Regions from separate parts of the Homo sapiens genome. Here regions 2, 3, 4 and 5 are each linked to region 1. Evidence: fine-mapped expression QTL. A gene starts in region 1. Each other region holds a variant in brackets. All regions are shown on one strand. Distances are between the middles of the regions.

The links. PIP is the estimated chance that this variant, and not a neighbour inherited with it, causes the effect.
Region 2: its variant is fine-mapped to the expression of PPFIA4 in whole blood (TOPMed, PIP above 0.99).
Region 3: its variant is fine-mapped to the expression of PPFIA4 in sigmoid colon (GTEx, PIP 0.97).
Region 4: its variant is fine-mapped to the expression of PPFIA4 in blood mononuclear cells (TOPMed, PIP above 0.99). The same link has a PIP of 0.9 or more in monocytes and whole blood.
Region 5: its variant is fine-mapped to the expression of PPFIA4 in whole blood (TOPMed, PIP above 0.99). The same link has a PIP of 0.9 or more in neutrophils.

What each region holds. Positions count from the first base shown.
Region 1 is chr1:203,024,331-203,028,444 of GRCh38, forward strand. PPFIA4 (PPFI scaffold protein A4) reads left to right here and starts at 2,161. Exons shown (of 30, transcript NM_001304331.2): 1 at 2,161-2,299. TMEM183A (transmembrane protein 183A) reads left to right here. Exons shown (of 8, transcript NM_138391.6): 8 at 1-518. RefSeq lists a silencer at 1,951-2,260 and an enhancer at 2,087-2,608.
Region 2 is chr1:203,067,829-203,071,942 of GRCh38, forward strand. PPFIA4 (PPFI scaffold protein A4) reads left to right here. Exons shown (of 30, transcript NM_001304331.2): 27 at 625-800; 28 at 3,864-3,932. Among named protein-coding and RNA genes, the nearest start is that of MYOPARR, 14 kb to the right of the region's middle. RefSeq lists an enhancer at 1,639-1,688. The variant G/A (reference allele first, on the strand shown) is at 1,553.
Region 3 is chr1:202,047,932-202,052,045 of GRCh38, forward strand. No RefSeq gene overlaps it. Among named protein-coding and RNA genes, the nearest start is that of ELF3, 39 kb to the left of the region's middle. The variant C/T (reference allele first, on the strand shown) is at 1,988.
Region 4 is chr1:203,057,798-203,061,911 of GRCh38, forward strand. PPFIA4 (PPFI scaffold protein A4) reads left to right here. Exons shown (of 30, transcript NM_001304331.2): 20 at 1,381-1,474; 21 at 1,973-2,054; 22 at 2,420-2,620; 23 at 3,173-3,235; 24 at 3,855-3,881. Among named protein-coding and RNA genes, the nearest start is that of MYOPARR, 24 kb to the right of the region's middle. RefSeq lists an enhancer at 3,212-3,796. The variant C/G (reference allele first, on the strand shown) is at 1,786.
Region 5 is chr1:203,081,026-203,085,139 of GRCh38, forward strand. It overlaps MYOG (myogenin), which reads right to left. Exons shown (of 3, transcript NM_002479.6): 2 at 3,622-3,703; 3 at 2,104-3,006. The coding sequence ends at 2,885. It overlaps MYOPARR (myogenin promoter associated myogenic regulatory antisense long non coding RNA), which reads left to right and starts at 2,770. Exons shown (of 3, transcript NR_160550.1): 1 at 2,770-2,954; 2 at 3,347-3,548. The variant C/G (reference allele first, on the strand shown) is at 1,737.

The sequences.
Region 1 (4,114 bases):
AGAAAACCTTGCTGCTTGTCTCTCCTCCCACCCTCCACCATCCAAAATTAACCAGTGAGCTGGATATTACCTGGATATTGCCAGGAGGTGGGCATTAAGACAGTATTCTTTAAAAGTGAAAATCTTGTGAGGCAAACTGCTAAATTCACATTTTTGTTTTTTTTTTTTTACCATCTTCCCTAGGAATATTCCTAGAAAGCATCTGCTTAATTTTGCTGCTAACAGCTAACCTTATCCCACGTTGAGGGTGGTATTAAAACTGTTCACACAGAGTGAGCCTGGGTCAGTCAAAAACAGAATTTGGGCATTTGAGTGATAACAGACAACCTAAGGACAATGAGCACTTTGCAGATCTCTACAATTAAAAGTTGCCTCTTTGAGGCAGGAGGGGAGAAGCACAGTCCCTGCCAGGTTGCCTGAACTAAAGATGCCATGGAGCAGGAGTGTCTTGGTGCATTGTTCCCCGCTTAGGAGTACCTTTAAAAAGGGGGTGAAATAAATTTGGCTTAATAATTGTATTCTGACTCAGCTCTGAGTTTTTTGTGTCAAATTCCATGGTATGGTGACAGATACAGTACTAGATACTGCCTCAGCTCTCTCTCAGCATAATATTGACAAACATTTGGTAAAATGTGTTACCAGTCGTTATCTTGGCTTCAGCCTTCCTCTGCATTGGCTGAGTTGCCGTTTCTAGCATGATACATGCTTTATTAGTGACAGGATGTGAAGTGTCTCAGGGATTTCCTTTTGGTGAGGACCCCAGACCACCCGAAGAAGAATTAGAACTTTCTGGACTACAGGTTATATACTGTGATTTTGCTCTGTCAAGCAACATAAATTGATCCTTGAACGCTGTGAGAGTTATGGACACAGACCCTCACACAGTTGAAAATCTGCTATGACTTTTGACTGCCCGAAAACTTAATAGCCTACTGTTGACTGGAAGCCTTATTGATAACATAAACAGTTGATTAATGTGCATTTTGTATATGTAGTATATACCTTATTATAATAAGCTCGAGAAAAGAAAATGTTATTAAGAAAATCAAAGAAGAGAAAATACATTTACTGTTCATTAAGTGGGTCATCATGTTGAGCAGGCTGACGAGTAAGAAGAGGAGGGGTAGTCTTGCTGTCTCAGGGGTGGCGGGGAAGGAAGAAAATCTGCATGCAACTGGCCCTGTGCAGTTGAAGGCCCTGTTGTTCAAGGGTCACAGATTTAGCTTCACTTACCCACCCCTCAGATCAGAATTACTCAAGATTTCCCTGTCTTCAAAGAGACGCAAGGAAATTATGCCAAATGGTGAATATATTGGGTGGAAGATAAATGAGAGAAGGTTGTATGTGTCACTGATCTCAACTATAGCATTTGCTGCTGATATAGAACATGCTGTGTATATATCTATAAATACACACACATGAACACATTGCATGTATATAAAAATTGTTCACACTTTTAGTGGTGCTTACTGGGTATTGGTAAAGGATTGAGTAGGCACTGTGATGAAACTTCACAAAGCAGATGGAAAAGATGCATTAATAGCCACAGGGGGCAGGGTAAGGGAGCAATTCAGGAAAATGGAGAGGCTTAGCTAAAATTTGTCAGTCAGGAATTTTGGCATTTGAGACTTGTTTTCATACTATGTATATGTAATAGACAAACCCTTCATTTTGTAGTAACAGTGTTAGAACAGCCAGGTGCCTGAAGGCAAGCGACACAATTCACTGAAGAGCATACTACAGATGTAGTATCCGGATATCAAGTTTCCCCACTTAAAAAATGGGTGCGATCAAAGGAAAAGCAAGGAACGGGCAGGAGAGCAAGCGTGAAAGGTGACAAACTTGACAATTACAAGGCCGAGACTAAGGCCAATTTAGGGAACGGGCTGTTAGACTAGGAACAAGGGCGAGTTCAGAGGGAGGGGCAGAATGTGGGCAGCACTCCTGGGCCCTGAGACCCTTCTGCGGAATAAAACTCTGGCACTTCGCCACCTCCTAGGCTGAACCAAGATGGCGCGCGGCCTCAAAGCGGCGCTCTCGTCACGTGCCCGGACCCGAGGCGCTTGGGGGCGGGAGGCGTGGCCTCGGTCGCGGCAGCCCAGCCCCGCCTAGGGGGCGGAGCCGGGGGGGGTTGTCCGCGGAGGAAGGGGGCGGGGCCCCGCGGCCGCGCGCTTGGGCGGCGGAGGCTGCAGCTACCTCGGCGCCGGCTCGGCTCTAGGACGTGTCGGGCTGCACGGGTCGGGGGCGGCTCCCTGCTGCTTCCGAGCCTAGCCGCCTGGCCTTCGGCATTTGCAGGCAGGTGAGCGCCCAGAGCCTGGACTGGGGTAGGATGCGTCTTTTCCCCATCTCCAGCTCCCCTCGACAGTTTGGGGAGGGGTCTCGTCTATCGCACCTCGGGAAACAGCCCTTTTTGACTCCGTATGTGCTACCTCCGGCAGGCGTCGGTACTGCTTACCCTGCCGCCCCTCGCCCTCCTTTGCGGTGCCCTGTGCCCTTGGGGGTGAGGATAGGGGCGATGCCTGATCTGCGGGGAGGGCGTGGAGTGCGCCCTCTGCTCCATCGGCTTCAGGGGAGGGGGCCGAGTTGGCGAGTCTCCCGGTGGGAACGGAGCAGACTGCGCCCCCATTTCCCCTCCAGGAGAGTCAGAAAAAGCGCCTCTCGGCTCCGGGGCCAACCCCACTCCTTTGGGGACGCGATTCTGATGGGCTGAGGTCTTCGCTCTTCGCGGGGGTCTTAATCTTTCCCGAGTTGCTCATAGCACCCCTGTTCCTGTCGCTAGCTCTCCATTCCTCGAACTGCCAGCCTCAGTCTGTGCCAGAGATGCCCCCATCTCCGCAGTGCCAGGGCGGTGGGGTGGAAGGAGCGGCCAACCCGAGGCCTGGTGGGGGTGGGGACAGGGGTGGGCGCAACAGGAAAAGAGGGCTGGAATAGAGATGCCTGAACTGGGAGGGTGGGAGTGGGGCGCTGACTTACGTCCACGCAGTAGGGATGTTTTCCAGCGCAGATTTTGAGGTTTTGATGGTGGGTGGGAAGAGAGAGGTCGGGCTGGAGGACTTGGAGACATGGTGTAGGTGGTTTTCTTCGAGAAGGAGGAGGGATCCAGGACAAGGTGCCACTAGGAGCTGATGTCACCTTTGAGGAGAGGTGTGCTGGTAGTTTCCATCAGAGGAGCAGGAGAGTTGGGGCCGTTCTGTGTGGAGAGCAAGTGGTTAAGGAGGCGCTGCTTCGCAGGGAGATCCCCTCCTGGTGTGAGCTTAAGGGTCCCCTCCAGGAGCCAGGTTTCAGGGATTTCCCATAGTCCTTTCCAGAGTTCTTGGATCTGGTACCTAGTACTTTGCTCAACATCCAGCAAACATTTGTTGGACACCTACTATCTGCCAGATACTATGCTCGGTGCTAGGTCTTCTGAAGGCAATTTACAGCCACGGAGTAGCTGAAAGGTACACATAGGAGGCACACATAGCAGGTATTCTGTTAACACCCTTCTCACCGCCCATCCCCATTCTGTTACATTGCTGTTGGATTAGAAAAAGAAAGAACTGTGTCCACGTGCTTTCAAACAGCTGTCTGAATTAGACTCCAACCTACACACCCCCTACCACTATTAACTGGCCAGGTAGTCCCAGGGAAGCTGCCTAAGCAAAAGGGCAGCTTGAATGATTTCCCTTGGTTATTTTCTCAGATTTTGTCCTGAGGCTTGAGGAGGCTTCGTGGGGTAAACGGTATCTCAAAGTAAGGAGATAATGAATGACAAAATGGTTATTGGGGGCCAAGAATGTCCTAGACACTCTGTGTAGTGGGAGACGCCATCTCTGGAAGATGGAATAGTGTGGGGGAGGAGGGTGTAGAAGGGAATTCGCATCCAGTGGAGTTGGGGTTTGTGCTGCTGAGCATGTCGTGATGTCAGAACCGTGTGGTGCATGAGGTCTGGCTGCTGGGCTGTAAAGGAGGGCTGGAGGGGCAGGGCATGGCAGGCAGCCAGGCTCCTGGGTCTCATCTCTGAGTTGATTGCTGAAATCTTAGAGTTGGAAAGAGTTGTCAGGGATGGCTTATAGGTCCTCACAGAGCCTCTGAGGATGGCAGAGCTAGAGCTAGGCAAGAGAATGAGTAGTCA
Region 2 (4,114 bases), 43 kb after region 1:
CCTGCTTGGCTGGTCCCTGCCTTGGGCCAAGTGGAGGGGAGGCATTCTGTGTCTCAGGGAATCTTCCAGTCTGAAAAGGAAGATGCAGCCTCACCTTAGGGAGCTCCCAGTCTGATGGAGGAGACATAGTCCATGCCAAGTTGTCTATAATTCCCCTCCCTCAACCCCACATACCAGATAGCAGCCACCAACTGGACAAATGCAGTGAATCCTCTGGGACGGTGTTATAGACTGGTGTGCCTGTGGAACTTGTTGATCTGGATGGGGCTGGATGGGAGATGCAAGTCTTAGAGGAGACCTTGAAGGTGGAAAGAATAAGAAGGCCATTCCAGCTTGGGTCAGGGGGATGACCCGTGCAAGGGTTCTGGGGAGAAAGCTTGGAGCCTGTTGGCCTGACCCCGGGTCCTGTAAACTGGCAGGGATGGAGTGAGTGGGGGGTTGGTTCCCCAGGCACCCAGGTGCCAGGGAGGAGAGAAAGAAGATATGGAAATTTAGGGATGGAGTGGGGGTCAGAGAGCAGGGTGGACTGCGGCTCTGGGTTTAGGGAGCTCTGCTTCTGTCCTTGGAGGGCCCTTGATGAAACGTAGTATCTCCTTCCGTCCCTTTTCTTCCCCCACACTCCAGATGTGTTAGTCTGGACCAACGACCAGGTGGTTCATTGGGTCCAGTCTATTGGGCTCCGGGACTACGCAGGAAACCTGCATGAGAGTGGTGTGCATGGAGCCTTGCTGGCCCTGGACGAGAACTTCGACCACAACACACTGGCCCTGATCCTCCAGATCCCCACACAGAACACCCAGGTGGGCAGCCTTTTAATCAGTCAACTTGAGTCTCTCCCTGTATCCCTCACTTGCTCTCTTTCTTTCCCTCATACACAAAGGCTTAGGTATCTTGGGGGGTGGGGAGCTTTTCTAGGGCCTATGCCAGAGGGGATCGCAATGTCCTCAATTCTCCAAGTGATCGCTGTGCATAAGCAAGCCCTCATGGGAACACATGGCCTTCACATACAGAGCACACCTAGCGTGGGCCTGGCACACAGTGTGCTCTTACAATGCGCATCCCCGTCCTGCCCTGGGTACCTCTATCTCCTCCTAACCCCACTTCATAGCTGAGACTCTGAGCCTTCCTTTTCATCCTGCTTCTCTGATCTGACTTTTCTTAGAGGGGAATGAGCCCCAGGGCCCCTAGGGACCAGAGAGCCCATATCACCTTTGTCTACCACCCTAGGGATCTGCTCCTGGGCCCCCAGCCTTAAAAAAGCTAAATATACCAAATTACACAACCCAGAGCCTCTCCACACCAGGGCTTTGGCTCTCTGTCAACAGCTCAAATGATTAAACATCTCATGAAATTACATTTCATCATTTTTATGGAGCTGTCATCTAAGAATATATCTAAATTCTCTTGAACCTATTTATATTTTTGGCCTTTCTAACTTCCTGTGGGTAATAGATTCTAGAAGTACTGCTTGTTGTGTAGAGTACTTCCTGATTTTATTTGTCCTGAAAATGCCCCTGTCAGGCCCCTGGGGAAGGAACTACCTCCTCTTGAT[G/A]GTTTAGGTTTGGTAAGGATATTTGTATTTAACTAGTTCTCACCTTTTATGATTTCATAAACTCTGATTGTATTGCCTCTGGGCCCAAGCCTTTGTCTCTCCAGACGGAGTGTTCTTAATTCTTTTAGGCTTTCCTCATATAGACTCGCCTCTGTCCCCTGATTGTTTTAGCTGCCCTTGTCTGGACTGTTTGCAGCTGTCAGATCTCTTTTGAAATTCAGCCACCAGAGCTGCACAGGCTATTCTGGGAGCAGACACGTTTTGGCTTGAATGAGGGTAGGGCTGTGTTGTCTCGTAATTCTGGGCAGTGTGTTGGCCTTTTGGGGGTGGTGGCAGTGCACAGGGCCATTGTGTCCTGTAGGCATTCTGCAGTGACCCCCCCGCCCCGCCCCCACCCCAACCAGTCAAAATAGATAGGACAGATCCCTTCATTCTCCAAGAGGAGCCTGGATTTTTCCCCCAAGTGCGTTCTCTCCACTTGCCCACTTCGGGCAAGCCTCGTCTGCCACTTTGCTGCCCACTCACCTCTCTTTGTGAGACGCTTCTGAAATTTACACCTATCCTCCTCACCTTTCACTGCCCAGAGGAGCAGTGTCATTTGGATACTTGAAATTTACTGTGCTTCTCCTTTCAGATCATTTCTAAAAATGTTATGTTCCCAATACTGGCACAGACTGTCCTTATGGAACTCTACGCTTAATATTTTCTACCTAGAAATGGACTTTTCTCTTTCTTTGATTTCCTATCTCTAATGCATTCAGTTTTGGAGGATAGCAGTAATTCTGTAAATAGTAGCAGGGACACCTCCCTATGGCTTTCTAACCTTTCTTAATTTCCTGACCCCGTCATTGAGCTTAGCTGTTGGGAGAAGTAGTGTGTGACCCAATACGGAATCCCTCATTTAAAATGGTTAAAAATGGCTCGGTGTGGTAGCTCAGGCCTGTATGCTCAGCATTTTGGGAGGTCAAGGTGGGAGGATTGCTTGAGGCCAGGAGTTTAAGACCAGCCTGGGCAACATAGTGAGACCCAGTCTCTACAAAAAGTTTAAAAAATTAACTGGGTTTGGTAATGCGTGACTGTAGTCCCAATTACTCGGGAGGCTGAGGCGGGAGTTTTGCTTGAGCCCAGGAGTTTAAGGCTGCAGTGAGCCATGATTGTGCCACTGCACTCCAGCCTGGGCAACAGAATGAGACCCTGTCTCCCTCAAAAAAAAAAAAAAAAAAAAAGGTTAAAAATATCTGGTAGCAGTTTTGAAAACTTTTCTGTTTTTGGCATTTCTGAAAACTCTGAATGAGTTAATCTCCTGGGAGGCCTAGAGAGAGTCTGTATGCACACAGCCCAGGGACAACCAGTATCCACAGCTGAGCAGGCTTCCTAATTTTAAGTTTTTGATGTGAAAACTTATCAGATATATTTATTTAATCCAAATCAGTCATGTTCTGGTTATCCATGGTTTACATGCTTACTTACCCCTCCAGAAAGAGAAAGACAGGCACAATTTTCCCCTTTCAGACAATTTTTTTTCCAAGTAGGTGACGTCTCTTTATCTATGTGTTCTATGATCCCACTTTTTTGTTTTTTTTTTTTCTTAGAGACAGGGTCTTGTTCTATCACCCGATCTGGAGTGCAGGTGTGATCATAGCTCACTGTAGCCTCAGACTCCTGGGATCAAGCTATCCTCCTGCCCAACTAACTGGTAGCTGGGACTGTAGGTGTTCACAACCATGCCCAGTTAATTAAATTTTTTTTTTTTTTTGAGACAGGGTCTCAGTATGTTGCCAAGACTGCTATTTTTTTTTTTTTTTTTGAGACAGAGTCTCACTCTGTCCCCCAGGCTGGAGTGCAGTAGTGCCATTTCGGCTCACTGCAAGCTCCGCCTCCCGGGTTCAAGCAATTCTCCTGCCTCAGCCTCCCGAGTAGCTGGGACTACAGGCGCCTGCCACACCATGCCTGGCTAATTTTTTGTATTTTTCGTAGAGACGGGGTTTCACTGTGTTAGTCAGGATGGTCTTGACCTTCTGACCTTGTGATCTACCCGCCTCGGCCTCCCAAAGTGCCCGGCCACTACTTTAAAAAAAAAAATTATGTTGTTCTAATTTGCTGTATATGAAAGAATCCTAGGCTTACAGCTTTACTTATGAGTTTGCTTGAAGGAGCAGCTTCAAAAAGGTGTGTAAAGGCCTCTAATGGGCTAAATGCACTGGAGCCTTGCATCTCTGACCTTGGACCCTTGGAAAATGGTGAAAGATGGCATAAAGGTAGTTAACTATAGCCCTTCCCACCTTTCCCTCTCCTGCTCTATGGACTGCAGGCACGCCAAGTGATGGAAAGAGAGTTCAATAACCTGTTGGCCTTGGGCACAGACCGGAAGCTGGATGACGTGAGTACCTGGCCATGAATTAGGAGCCTTGGGGATTTGGTCATCTTCGTTGGATTGAGGTTCATGAGTTCTGCCTTCCCTGGGCTAATTGTTGGAAGGCTAGTCTATGGGAGGAGAGCCAGAGGGGATGGGGATAATGTCAGGGGGTTGAGGAGGTGGACCAGCCCTAGAAGAACTTGTCT
Region 3 (4,114 bases), 980 kb before region 1:
TTTCATCTTTACTTGACCTTTGCCAAAGAACTATGCATATTCTGGTGATGGTGGTTTTCTTCAACAGATCTTTACGGGGAAGGCCCTCTCATTTCCTCCACACCTTTCCTCTAGTGAAAGCGTTCTCAACCTCCAAGGAGTGTTGGGATTGTCTCCCCAGGTCATATCATCTGTCATCCATATGGGCTGTTAGCTCTGCGATTTTTGTTCTCAGTCCCCAGGCTGTCTCTCAGCTCTAGAAGGAATTGTTCAAGGTCCTCCAGGTCCATGGCTCACTGCCTACTGCCTTTTCCTTTTAGGGTGGTAAATTATGGTAAAGTAAATATATGGGGAAACTAACAATAGATAAGGATTATTCAGGATTTTTTTTGAAACAGGGTTTCACCTGTCACCCAGGCTGGAGTGCAGTGGTACAATCTCGGCTCACTGTAACCTCTACCTCCCAGGTTCAAGAGATTCTTGTGCCTCAGCCTCCTGAGTAGGTGGGATTACAGGTTCCCACCACCACACTGGCTAATTTTTTTTTTTTTTTTTTTTTGAGACGGAGTTTCACTGTTGTTGCCCAGGCTGGAGTGCAATGGTGCGATCTTGGCTCACCACAACCTCCGCCTCCTGGGTTCAAGCGATTCTCCTGCCTTAGCCTCCTGAGTAGCTGGGATTACAGGCATGCACCACCACACCCAGCTAATTTTGTATTTTTAGTAGAGACGGGGTTTCTGTCCATGTTGGTCGGGCTGGTCTCGAACTCCCGACCTCAGGTGATCCGTCTGCCTCAGCCTCCCAAAGTGCTGGGATTACAGGTGTGAGCCATCGTACCTGGCCTTAATTTTTGTATTTTTTAGCAGAGATGAGGTTTCACCCTGTTGGCCAGGCTGGTCTTGAACTCCTGGCCTCAAGTGATCCACACACCTCAGCCTCCCAAAGTGCTGGGATTACAGACATGAGCCACCACTTCTGGCCCCAATATGTCACTTTTACAAAGGGAAACTTATGCCCTGCTTTTAGGCAGAGAGAGGGCGGAGAGCTAGCTTCTCCTGTGTCAGCTATATCTCAGTTGCCTTCAGCCCAAAATAATTATTTTGCCATAGTCTGATGCCCTTCACAGGTTAGTCCTATTCCTAACACAGGCACCCTGGAAGGCTGAAGCCCTCTGTACAGCTCTTGCTCCCTCTAGAAGAGATTTTCTAGCTCTCTTTGCTGTTCCCCGACTCTTTAGAGCCATGACTCTGCCTGTCTCCAGCACTTATTGCTCCATCGTTCTTTCTTAAGCTGGGTTTCCCCTGATCTCTCAGAATATATCATCCCAGAGTCACTAGAAAGAATGGGAGCAGACGGGAAAGGGTGGGGAGAACTACCCCTATTACGTAGGCATGTGTTTTGCATATGTTATCTAAGTCTTTCAACAACCCTGTGAAGTAGGTACTATTATTATCCCTTTCTACTTATAAGGAAATATAAGAGTCATATAGGTTGGGCCGCTCACCCAAGGTCAAGTTGTTACCTTGCAGTGGTGGAGCCTGGACACCAGCCCAGGTCTTGTAGACCAGAGCTTCTCAAACTATTTGTGAAGGACCAATTTTGAAAAAAAAAAAAAAAAAAAAAAGGACCAATTTTGTTTTTGCTTTGGTTTAGGTTGTTTTTAATTTCCAGTCTAAAATTATTGCAAAGCATAATAAAAATGAATTGCTGGAAAAATGAAAAGAAGGAAAGGAAAGGATATACAAATTATAAGCCCATTTTGTTGTTGCTGTTGTTGTTGTTATTGGGTTGAACAGATGTAACATTTTTCTGTCAAATTACTTTAATAGTTTCTAAGCATGGACTGGTACCAACCAGTCTGCAGACCACATCACAGGCTGCATGAAGAGAATCTCTCTGGGGATGGGCTGTGTGGCTCAGGCCTGAAATCCCATCACTTTGGGAGGCTGAGGCAGGCGGGTTGCTTGAGCCTAGCACTTTGAGACCAGCCTTGGAAGCACATTGAGAC[C/T]TCATCTCTATGAATAATTGAAAAATTAGGTGGGAGCTGGGCGCGGTGGCTCATGCCTGTAATCCCAGCACTTTGGGATGACAAGGAGGGCAGATCACTTGAGGTCAGGAGTTCGAGACCAGCCTGGCCAACATGGTGAAACTCTAGTAAAACTACAAAAATTAGCAGGGCGTGGTGGCTGCACACCTGTAATCCCAGCTACTCTGGAAGCTGAGGCAGGAGAATCACATGAATCCGGGAAGCGGAGGTTGCAGTGAACCGAGATCTGCCCACTGCACTCCAGCCTGGGCTACAAAGTGAGACTCCACTTCAAAAAAAAAAAGAAAGAAAAAGAAAAGAAAAGAAAAATTAGGCCAGGTGCAGTGGCTCATGCCCGTAATCCCAACACTCTGGGAAGCTGAGACAGGCGGATCACTTTAGGTCAGGAGTTCCAGACCAGCCTGGCCAACATGGTAAAACCCCGTCTCTACTACAAATACAAAAATTAGGCCGGGCGCGGTGGCTCACGCCTGTAATCCCAGCACTTTGGGAGGTTGAGGTGTGTGGATCACAAGGTCAGGAGATCGAGACCATCCTGGCTAACACAGTGAAACACCATCTCTACTAAAAATACAAAAAATTGCCGGGCGCGGTGGCTCACGCCTGTAATCCCAGCACTTTGGGAGGCCGAGACAGGTGGATCACGAGGTCAGGAGATCGAGCCCGTCCTGGCTAACACGGTGAAACCCTGTCCCTACTAAAAATAATAAAAAAATTAGCCGGGTGTGGTGGCAGGCGCCTGTAGTCCCAGCTACTCGGGAGGTGGAGGCAGGAGAATGGCGTGAATCCGGGAGGCGGAGCTTGCAGTGAGCCGAGATCACGTCACTGCACTCCAGCCTGGGCGACAGAGTGAGACTCCGTCTCAAAAAAAAAAATACAAAAAATACAAAAAATTAGCTGGGCGTGGTTGCAGATGGCTGTAATCCCAGCTACTTGGGAGGCTGAGGCAGGAGAATGGCATGAACCCAGGAGGCGGAGCTTGCAGTGAGCCGAGATCCTGCCACTGCACTCCAGCCTAGGCGACAGAGCGAGACTCTGTCTCAAAAAAATAATAAAAATAAATAAATGTTTTTGTTGTTGTTGAGACGGAATCTCGCTCTGTTCCCTGGGCTGGAGTGCAATGGCACGATCTTGGCTCACTGCAACCTCTGCCTCCCGAGTTCAAGTGATTCTCCTGCCTCAGCCTCCTGAGTAGCTGGGATTACAGGTGCCCGCCACTGTGCCCGGCTACTTTTTGTAGTTTTAGTAGAGACAGGGTTTCACTATGTTAGTCAGGCTGGTCTTGAACTCCTGACCTCAGGTGATCTGCCCGCCTCGGCCTCCCAAAGTGCTGGGATTACAGTCGTGAGCCACCGCGCCTGGCGAGACTCACTCTTGAGGTTGGCCCAGGTTACCGAGGAGTATGTCACGGTCTTCAGGTTTTTTGATCTTAGAAAAGATTGAGAGTAACTCTGTCTATCTGTAAGAGTGTACATTGCCAGAAAAATGTCTGGAAGGACACTCACTAATAGGCTGTCAGTTGCTATCTCTGGGGGTAGAATTTAATATGATTTTTCATTTCTTCTTTCTACCCATTGGGCACTGATTGAATCATATAATAGCCATGTACTTTTTAAAAATAGCAGCTTCTTTGAGATTTAATTCACGATACCATAAAATTCATCCTTTAAATGTATACACTTCAGTGGTTTCTAATACATTCACAGAATTGTGCAGCCATCACCACTAGCTCGTTTCAGAACATTTTTATCACTCCAGAAAGAAACGCTGTGCCCATTAACAGCCACTCCCCATTTCTCTCTCCCCTCAGTCTCTGGCAACCACTAATCTACTTTCTGTCTCTATAGATTTGGATATTCTGGACATTTCACATAAATGGAATCATACAACTTACGGTCTTATGGGATTGGCTCTTGCATTTGGCATATCCTTTTCAAGTTTCCACCATGTTGTTGGATGTACTTCACTACTTTTTATTGCCGAATAATATTCCAACCAAGTTCTACTGTTACAAATATTTTGCAAAAAGTTGGTGGGGGCCAGGCGCAGTGGTTCACGCCTGTAATCCCAGCACTTTGGGAGGCCAAG
Region 4 (4,114 bases), 33 kb after region 1:
GGGGCGGCCTCCTTTGGTAGCGACACCTGAGCTAAAGTGTGAGGGCCACATAGGAATTAGCCGAGCCAGGGAGACATCTGTGTGTGGAGGAAGGGGTTGGTCTGGGAAAGGCAAAAGTTTGTGGGTGTGAGAGGTTGGTATGTACTTATGCATATTCTGAGTTGAGAAGGAGGAGGGTGGGCGGAGTGGGGAGATGGGACTGGACAGCTAGGCTGGGGCCAGCTGTGAGGGCCTTGCAGCATCTGTTTTAGTTTAAGAGTTCCCCTGAGGCAGTGGGAGCATTGATGAATTTCGTGCAGGGGAGGAACTCATCAACTAGAATAAAGGAACCTTTGGACCCAAATGCATAATTAGACCTTTCTGCAGCTCAGGAAGATGTGAATCAGAAGACAGCTAGCTGGCTGAGGAGGAGGAGGAGGGAGAGCACGCGAGGAGGAGGTTGGGGAAAGAGGAAGGAGAAAGAGGAATTTGCTGAGACAGGGAGAGGTCTGTGTGTGAAGGAAAGGGGTGGTCTGGGAACGGGGAGGAGGAACATGGCCACCTCTGCTCAGAATATGGGAGTGTCAGCCCAGAGAATGAGGTCCAGCTCCTTCTTCCCCAGTCCACAGGGGTGAGGGGAGTTGTGGAGCTGGCCACAGACAGGGGAAGCTGAACGGTTTGATCAGGGGAAGAAGCATTTTGGGTGAAGCCTTATGATTTTCGATGCTCTCCACACACGTTGGCACCTAAACCTGAGACAGCACCTCAGATTGGTTTCTGGATTACCCAAACTTGTTGCCTACTGTGCACTGTGGGGGGGTGACCGGGACTTAAAAGAATTCTAAGATTCTGCCTCTGGCCACGAATTCTGAAGGGTTCTAGCATCAATTCAAGGAGATGTTTAGTAGAAGACAGAACTCTGCATGTTCCCCTTTGTGGTTTTGTGCAAGTGAATGCACCCAGAGAAGGAGGCTCAGAGACACAGCTCTCAGTGTGTGGATTTCCACACCCCTGACCCAAGCCAGGGTCATCCTTCTCTCTGAGCCTTGTAGCCCACTTGTGTTTGGGGCTCTGGGTTTCCTTTGCACCTTGGCTTGGAGGAAGGACAGGTTCTGTCTAGGATTCTAGGGTCGATAACTTGGGTCCATCTGGCTGGAAAACACCCCCAAGGCTGAGGCTCCTGGGGAGACTCTCTGAACTGGGGATGACCCGCTTGATGCCATTCTCTGAGACTGCTTGGATGCAGGGACACTGAGCAGAAGCTCCAGGAATAATGGTCCCGTCAGGCCATGGGTTGTCCTCTGCCAAGGAGCCTCCTGCTGCTTCTGTTCCCCACCCCTGATCCAGGCAAGGGAGGAGAGGCAGAGGGGCTGGCTGACACACACATCTCTTTCCTTGTAGTTCTGCTAACAGACTCCGAATTCAGTATGCAGGAGCCTATGGTGCCTGCCAAGCTGGGGACCCAGGCAGAGAAGGACCGGCGGCTAAAGAAGAAGTAAGAGCCACAGGCCAGGGTCTGCCAGGGTGGGGCCCAGCCCCCTACCCACTTCCCTTCCCCTGGGCTGCTGTGAAACTGAGCTCAGAGACCCAGACCCCAGCAAGGCCCTTCCTGAACTGAGTTGGTCTGGTCCATGTGGGCACAGCAGGGCTGGGAGGAGGTTCTTAGGATGAGCCTAGGGAGAAGGAGGCAAGGGGGTTATGGGACAGTGACCTGGGTCCTCTGGGTCTCTGGCAGGGCAGATTGAAATCTCTAAGTCAATGTCAGGTCACATGCAAACAGAGAGCTCCTCGCCCTCTTGGGGTGGT[C/G]AGGTGTTCCTGCCCCATTTCTTGTTGTATTTCTTCAGAGGAAGAAGGAAGAGCAGAGCAGAGGAAGTCCAGGGTGGGGAGCAAGGGTTGTGGGTCTCCAGCTCTTGCACAGCCCAGTGGTCCCTGGAGCAAGAACAGTTAAGGGAGAAGGAAGAACTAGTGAGTCTGTTGTTCCTCTTCCTATAAGACACCAGCTGCTTGAAGATGCCCGCAGGAAAGGAATGCCCTTTGCCCAGTGGGATGGTCCTACTGTGGTCTCCTGGTTGGAGGTAAGCCTGAGCAAAGGGAGTCCACTCAGGGGTCTGGAGGGAAGGATGCTTGGGGTGGGCAGAGGGGTGGTGTCCTAGAACTTTTACAGTGTGTTTCTCCCCTGCCAAGTGGAAGTGTGCCATACCTAGCATTTAGCCCCCCTCCCCCTCCCCAACACACACACATACCAGTCGCAGGAGAGAGTTGATGCTACTTTTAATCTGTAAAATGGGAGAGTGAGGGGTTTGATGACCGCCACATTCCTATGATCTGTATTTGCTATTCGAGTCCGTGGATGAGGCCTGGCCCTTGCCCCTTGCTGTTGCCAAACTCTTGGTGGTAGGGCCCAGGCCTTGAATTACCTCCCTGTGCCCGGTGTCTGCAGCTCTGGGTGGGGATGCCTGCCTGGTATGTGGCAGCCTGCCGGGCCAACGTCAAGAGTGGTGCCATCATGTCCGCTCTGTCGGACACAGAGATCCAGCGGGAGATCGGCATCAGCAATGCCCTGCACCGGCTCAAGCTCCGCCTGGCCATTCAGGAGATGGTGTCATTGACCAGCCCCTCTGCCCCACCCACCTCCAGGACTGTGAGTGGCCCCTCCTTTGCCCAGGACATTTTCAGAGGTCCTGGAACATAGTTTGCAAGGTCTCCTGTTGGGCTTTGGGAAGATGGCAGCATTGAGCCCTGCCCCTTCCTTCCCATCCTCACAAAGGGCTCTCCCTGGTCTTCAGGAGGATATGATGTTGATTCTAGGAGGATACCAGCAGCCTTGGTTCCCTGCCTTTCACATACCACCCATGGGGCTCCATCTCCCCATCCCTACTCTGCCAAAATTTCCACGTCTCTGGGCAGTTTCCAGGATGGGCTTTCTGGGGTTTTATATGGTTGTCAGGTTGGGGGAAACAAAGGGAAGAGGGCATTTGTGAATATTGTCTTGGTCCTCTAACACAAGAATGCGGACTGCTCTGTGGGCCCCTGGGGTGGAGTCTTTCATTGTCGGCCATCTCCATGATTGAGACCAGCCCCCATTTCAGAGGACTCAGGGAGGGAGCTTTGTCCTTGTCCTTTGGGCTCCCAGCCTGATGGGGATCCTGGGGACCCACACCCAGGACCAGCTAGGTTTCCTCTCTGCCTGCAGTCTTCTGGGAATGTCTGGGTCACCCATGAAGAGATGGAAACTCTGGAAACATCTACTAAAACAGTGAGTCTGGCCCTTGGCCTTTGTCCCTGGGCCTGGGGTTGGGACTGATACTCCCATGAGGATGAGGGGAAGGCTGTGGGCAGTCAGAGTGGGCTGCCATCGATCTCACGTGAGGTTGGTATCCCTGAGGTGTGATCTGCTGTCACGGTGGAGGGTTGTCGGGAGAGGGGTGAGGCTGGGAGCGGAGCAGTTTGTATGTGTGTGATCCTTCCCAGGAGGTCACAAGCTTGCCCTGGGCCACTGGTGTGCTACAGCGGAGGAGAGTTGGGCTGGGGAGGGCTTTGCCCTGCTATGGACCTGAGCCACAGAGTCTCTGCCCTTGTGCTTCCTCCCTGGTGGAGGAATGGGGAGTGTTGGGAGAGCTGGGCATCTTGCCTGGCTCCCAGTCAAGCCTGGGAGGTGTGTGTTTTTGCCACACACACATTTGCCCCACCTCAACGCAAACATGGGTGCACACACCAACCTTGTGTTCTCTCTTAACCATCCTGACGAGCTTTCCCCAGTCACCCAGCCAGATACTGGGATGTCTTTTTCCTCTCCTTGATGGGGCCTAGGGTAGAGCTGATGGGTTTCTTGACTTTGCCTGTTTCCCCTAACACGCTGCACTCGTTCCTGCTAGGACAGTGAGGAGGGCAGCTGGGCTCAGGTAAGACTCCCTACCCTGTCTAGAACCAGCTCCCAAAACTTCAGGACAGTGTTCTTCTGGTAGGTTCTCTCCGCAGCAGGAATCTCTGAGTCCTTCATATGAAAAGCCCTGGACATAGGTTCTCTGCTCCCATCAGAGTGCCCCCCGCCCCCACCCAGTTCCCTCAAACTGCTTGTTCTGGTTTCTCAGGGTGGCAGGTGAGGAGCCCTGGAGGACTGTGGCCCCTGCATTCC
Region 5 (4,114 bases), 57 kb after region 1:
GTAATATTTATCTTTTCATTGTAGTGGATTCCCTAAAGTCCATTATTAAGCAACATTTGATTAATACAGTTTGATTTATTGTAGGTGCTTCCAACTAAAGAACAAATTTGAGCTAATCTCCCTAAAGAACTCCAACTCATTATTCATTAATTGGAGTCTTTTCTGTAATTCTGTTGTGAAGATTAAGCATTTGCTAATTTAAGAAAGTCCCCATGCTTCGATAACAATTGTTTATTCTGTGAAAATAACGAGTGAGGCTGGCCTGCTGCTTAGCAGAGTTTGCCATTCACACCTGTGGAATTCTAGCAAACTGTTTTTCCCTTAAGGACTTAAAGACATGAAAAAGTAAGTAGACAGTGACTACAGTGCTGAGGACTGTTCATTCTTTCCCGAGTCTGAATGTGACCCTCACTGTCTAATTGTCAGGATAACTGAAGAGGAGCAGACTTAAAAAATATATCCAGCAGCCCCAGAACCTGTCCTTCAGCAGAGCTGAGTGCCTTCCTTGGCCAGCCCTTCTTATCCCAGTAAGAAGGAGGGCAAGGGATGGGCAGGTCATAGCTGCAGGGGAGAGGGTGGTTTCCACCCTGGGAGTGTGGGAGGTGCCAGGGGCAGAGGAAATGAACTTGAAGGGAGACGATCCTCCATGAATGTGTTCTGAGTATTTTCGGAGGGTAATAAGGGAGTGAATGTAGATTCCAGAGCCAAGGCACTGCAGCCCACCCAGTTGCCCTCCTCATTCCCCAGGGCAGTGAATCAGGGCTAAGAGTCATGGAAATGACCTTGGTCTTCCTCTCCAGCCCCTCCAAGGGGGAAAGACTAAACTCAGTGATACCAACTTGAAAAGAAGAAAATCCCACCAATGGGAGCAGAGTAGGCCAATTTGCAATTCCCAATAAGCCCTGCCTGACTGGTTTGGGACAAGCAGGCAGTGGGGGAGACCCTCCCTTCTGCACCCTCGCCTGAGTTCTGGGAGCCTCCAGAGGCTTCTTCTGATTCTTTTCCTTAGGCAGAGTTTCTGAAGAAACTCGGGGGGCACAGTGGTAACTCTCCTCTCCAGCAGTAAGGTCAGGAGGGTGGGTGTGGGAGAGATGGCCCAGCTGAGCCCGGAGCTGGTGCAGGGTGGTCGCTAGAGCCTCAGGCAACACTGGGTTAAGTCCGTTGTCAAGGGCCCCGAAGGATTAAGCAGGGCTGGAACGTACCATGCTCTGAATCCCTGCTTCGGTGATGATTCTGAAACTTATAATTTGCAATAAATCTGATGAACTTAGCCCCAGGCAGTTGGAATTAATAAAGTTTTCAGTAGATGTCCATGTTCCGTTTGAATTCTAGCTCCTGTTAACTCCCCAGTTAATCCTCATGTAATGTCTACCCAAAAATCTCTGTTCTCAATTTCCCACCCACCTTCTAACCTCAGGAAGCTAATGTTTGAAAATAGCACCCCAAATGAAGAGAACCCCAGCTTCTCTTCGATTGTTCTTTGTGGACCCCTTTACCCTCCCCGAGCTAAATCTGAATCTCCTTCATGCTGGGAGCTGCAAGCAGGAACCACAATCCCCTTCGGCCTGAAGGGAATGGAGGAGAATGGGGAGGGGCCATGCTATTTGGCCCGCAAGGAAATGACAGTGTCTGATCCCCCTTCCTCACCTCCCACTTCTCTACAGGGCTCCTGGTATTGTGACACCAGGGCAGAGGTGGGGACTAGGGAAGGGAAACCACAACTTCTAGCTCTGCAC[C/G]TTGGCTGTGGGCTGAGCACTGGGCTTACGAGGTGCTCAGTTAACTGAAACCAGCGGACCTGTTGGGACATAACACAGAGCACAGCAGCCTGTGAGCAGTGGCTTTGAAGTATAGTCATAGCCAGTTGTCCTCCGTGTCCCACAAGGATGTCTGTGGAATCTGGTCTCCACCTAGACTGAGGTCCAGACATGCTCGATTTCCTTTATCATGGTGAAAAGAGCAGGGGTCCCCAGTGCCTAGTGACCACCAGCAAGATGAGGCCCTTAGCGCTGTGGAGCCCCACCCACTAGGGTGTGTCTGGACTGCTCAGTGGGAAGGGGCAGGGCTGTCAGTCATTTCCCTCCCTCTGCATCATCACCGACACTCTTCTGGCAACCAGTCTTTATTCATTTTTTAAAAAAGGAAATCCAAATAAGTTAGCAAAAAAAAAAAAAAAAAAAAAAAATACAAAACAATGGCAAAACCACACAATGCTTTGTTAACAAAAGAAATCACCCCCAAGAGGCCCCAACCCCTTTTCCCTGCCTGTCCCCGGCAACTTCAGCACAGGAGACCTTGGTCGGATGGCAGCTTTACAAACAACACACGAAACAAAACAAAACATAAAACCACTGGAAGGTTCCCAATATTCACTGCAAAAGTTTGGCCCCCCAGGGACTTGGGAACAGAGGGCTGTTCCTCTCCCCTTCTTCTCTCTCAATTCAGGGCAGGCCCAGCCCAGCCACTGGCATCGGGAAGAGACCAGAACAGGAGACGTGCACAGCTTGTCCAGGTCAGGGCACTGCGTCTCTCAAACCGTTTCACTTGGGGGGTGGAATTAGAGGCCGCGTTATGATAAAAAGGAAGCTCCTGAGTTTGCCCCCTGAGCTGGGGCATACACGAGGGGGCGCTCTGGTCCCCTGCTTTACCTCCCTGGAAAGGGGATGCCCTCTCCTCTAAGGAGGCAGCTGAATGAGGGCGTCCAGTCCCTTGCTGGGGGGTGGGTTAACCTTACATGGATGAGGAAGGGGATAGTCTGGCCTATGGCACCCCAGAGCTGGCTTCCTAGCATCAGGGCAGCCTGGCTTAGGAGGCCCCTGCTACAGAAGTAGTGGCATCTGTGGCCAGCTTGGGGGGCTCGCAAGGATGCCCGGCTTGGAAGACAATCTCAGTTGGGCATGGTTTCATCTGGGAAGGCCACAGACACATCTTCCACTGTGATGCTGTCCACGATGGAGGTGAGGGAGTGCAGGTTGTGGGCATCTGTAGGGTCAGCCGTGAGCAGATGATCTGTAAGGGGAGGTGGGAAGGTGGTACCTGGGTGAGCAGTGGGGGTTCTTGAGGCCCAGAATAGAGGATGGGACCCTTGGGGTGACAGAGGTTTTCCAGGACAGATGAATGACAAAGCTCCGGAGTTCTACTCCCTAGTCCCTGCCTTTCCCCATGCTCTGTGAGTGTGTGTGTGTGTGTGTGTGTGTGTGTGTGTGTGTGTATGCGCCTCTTTTCTGAACTCCCCTAGTAGGTAGGGTTTGGAAGCAGCCACTCAAGTTGGAGCAGGATGGAGCTCCCCAGAGACTGGACCTGCCCTTTGCTCGGCCCAGTTTTGCAGCACTGACTCAGCACTTCACAGGGACCCCTGGGGCAGGGACATTGTCCTCTCTGTGGAGAAGGTCAACCACCAGGCATCAGCTGGGGAGCTGCAGGAGCTACTATCACTCCTTTGCTGGTCAAGACTGCAGGGGCACACAGAACCTCCCAGCCCACCCTTTGGGCCTTGGAGTCAGCAGGTCCCTAGAGAGACCCAAGGGAAGAGGACCGGAGCAAGGAATAAGGTAAGAGGGGAGAACCTGGCCCAGGGAGGGACTGAGGGATTGGAGCCAAGGTTACCAGTCAGGCCTTACTTACCCCCTGGGTTGGCGCTGAACTCCAGTGCACTGCCCCACTCTGGACTGCAGGAGGCGCTGTGAGAGCTGCATTCGCTGGGCACCTGCAAGACAGGGCGAAGGCCCAAGGTCGGGGCACAGCCATTCTTTGATGTCTCTCTCTGCCTAGTCCCAGTGGGCAGAAGTACCTGTGGTGGGGTTGGAGGGTGGGCCACAGGCTGTGGCCTTCCAGCCCAGGCCATCCCCAACCCCAGAATCTTTGTAACTAGCTCCTCTCACACCCCAGAGGCCCTGCTTCCAGGCCTTCCTGGCTTCCATCCTGGGTGGTGGTTCTGCTCTCACAGGACACCAGCTTAAAGGGGTCCCTGGTTCTCCTGACTCTGGCGATAAGGGTGATGGAGACAGATTTTGTGGCCCAGTGAAGGTCGCTCTGTGCAGGCCTGCTGGAGTTCCAATGAGACTGAGTGGGTTTTCTCTCTGCTCAGCCACACCCAGGATGGGGGCAAAGCAGTCTT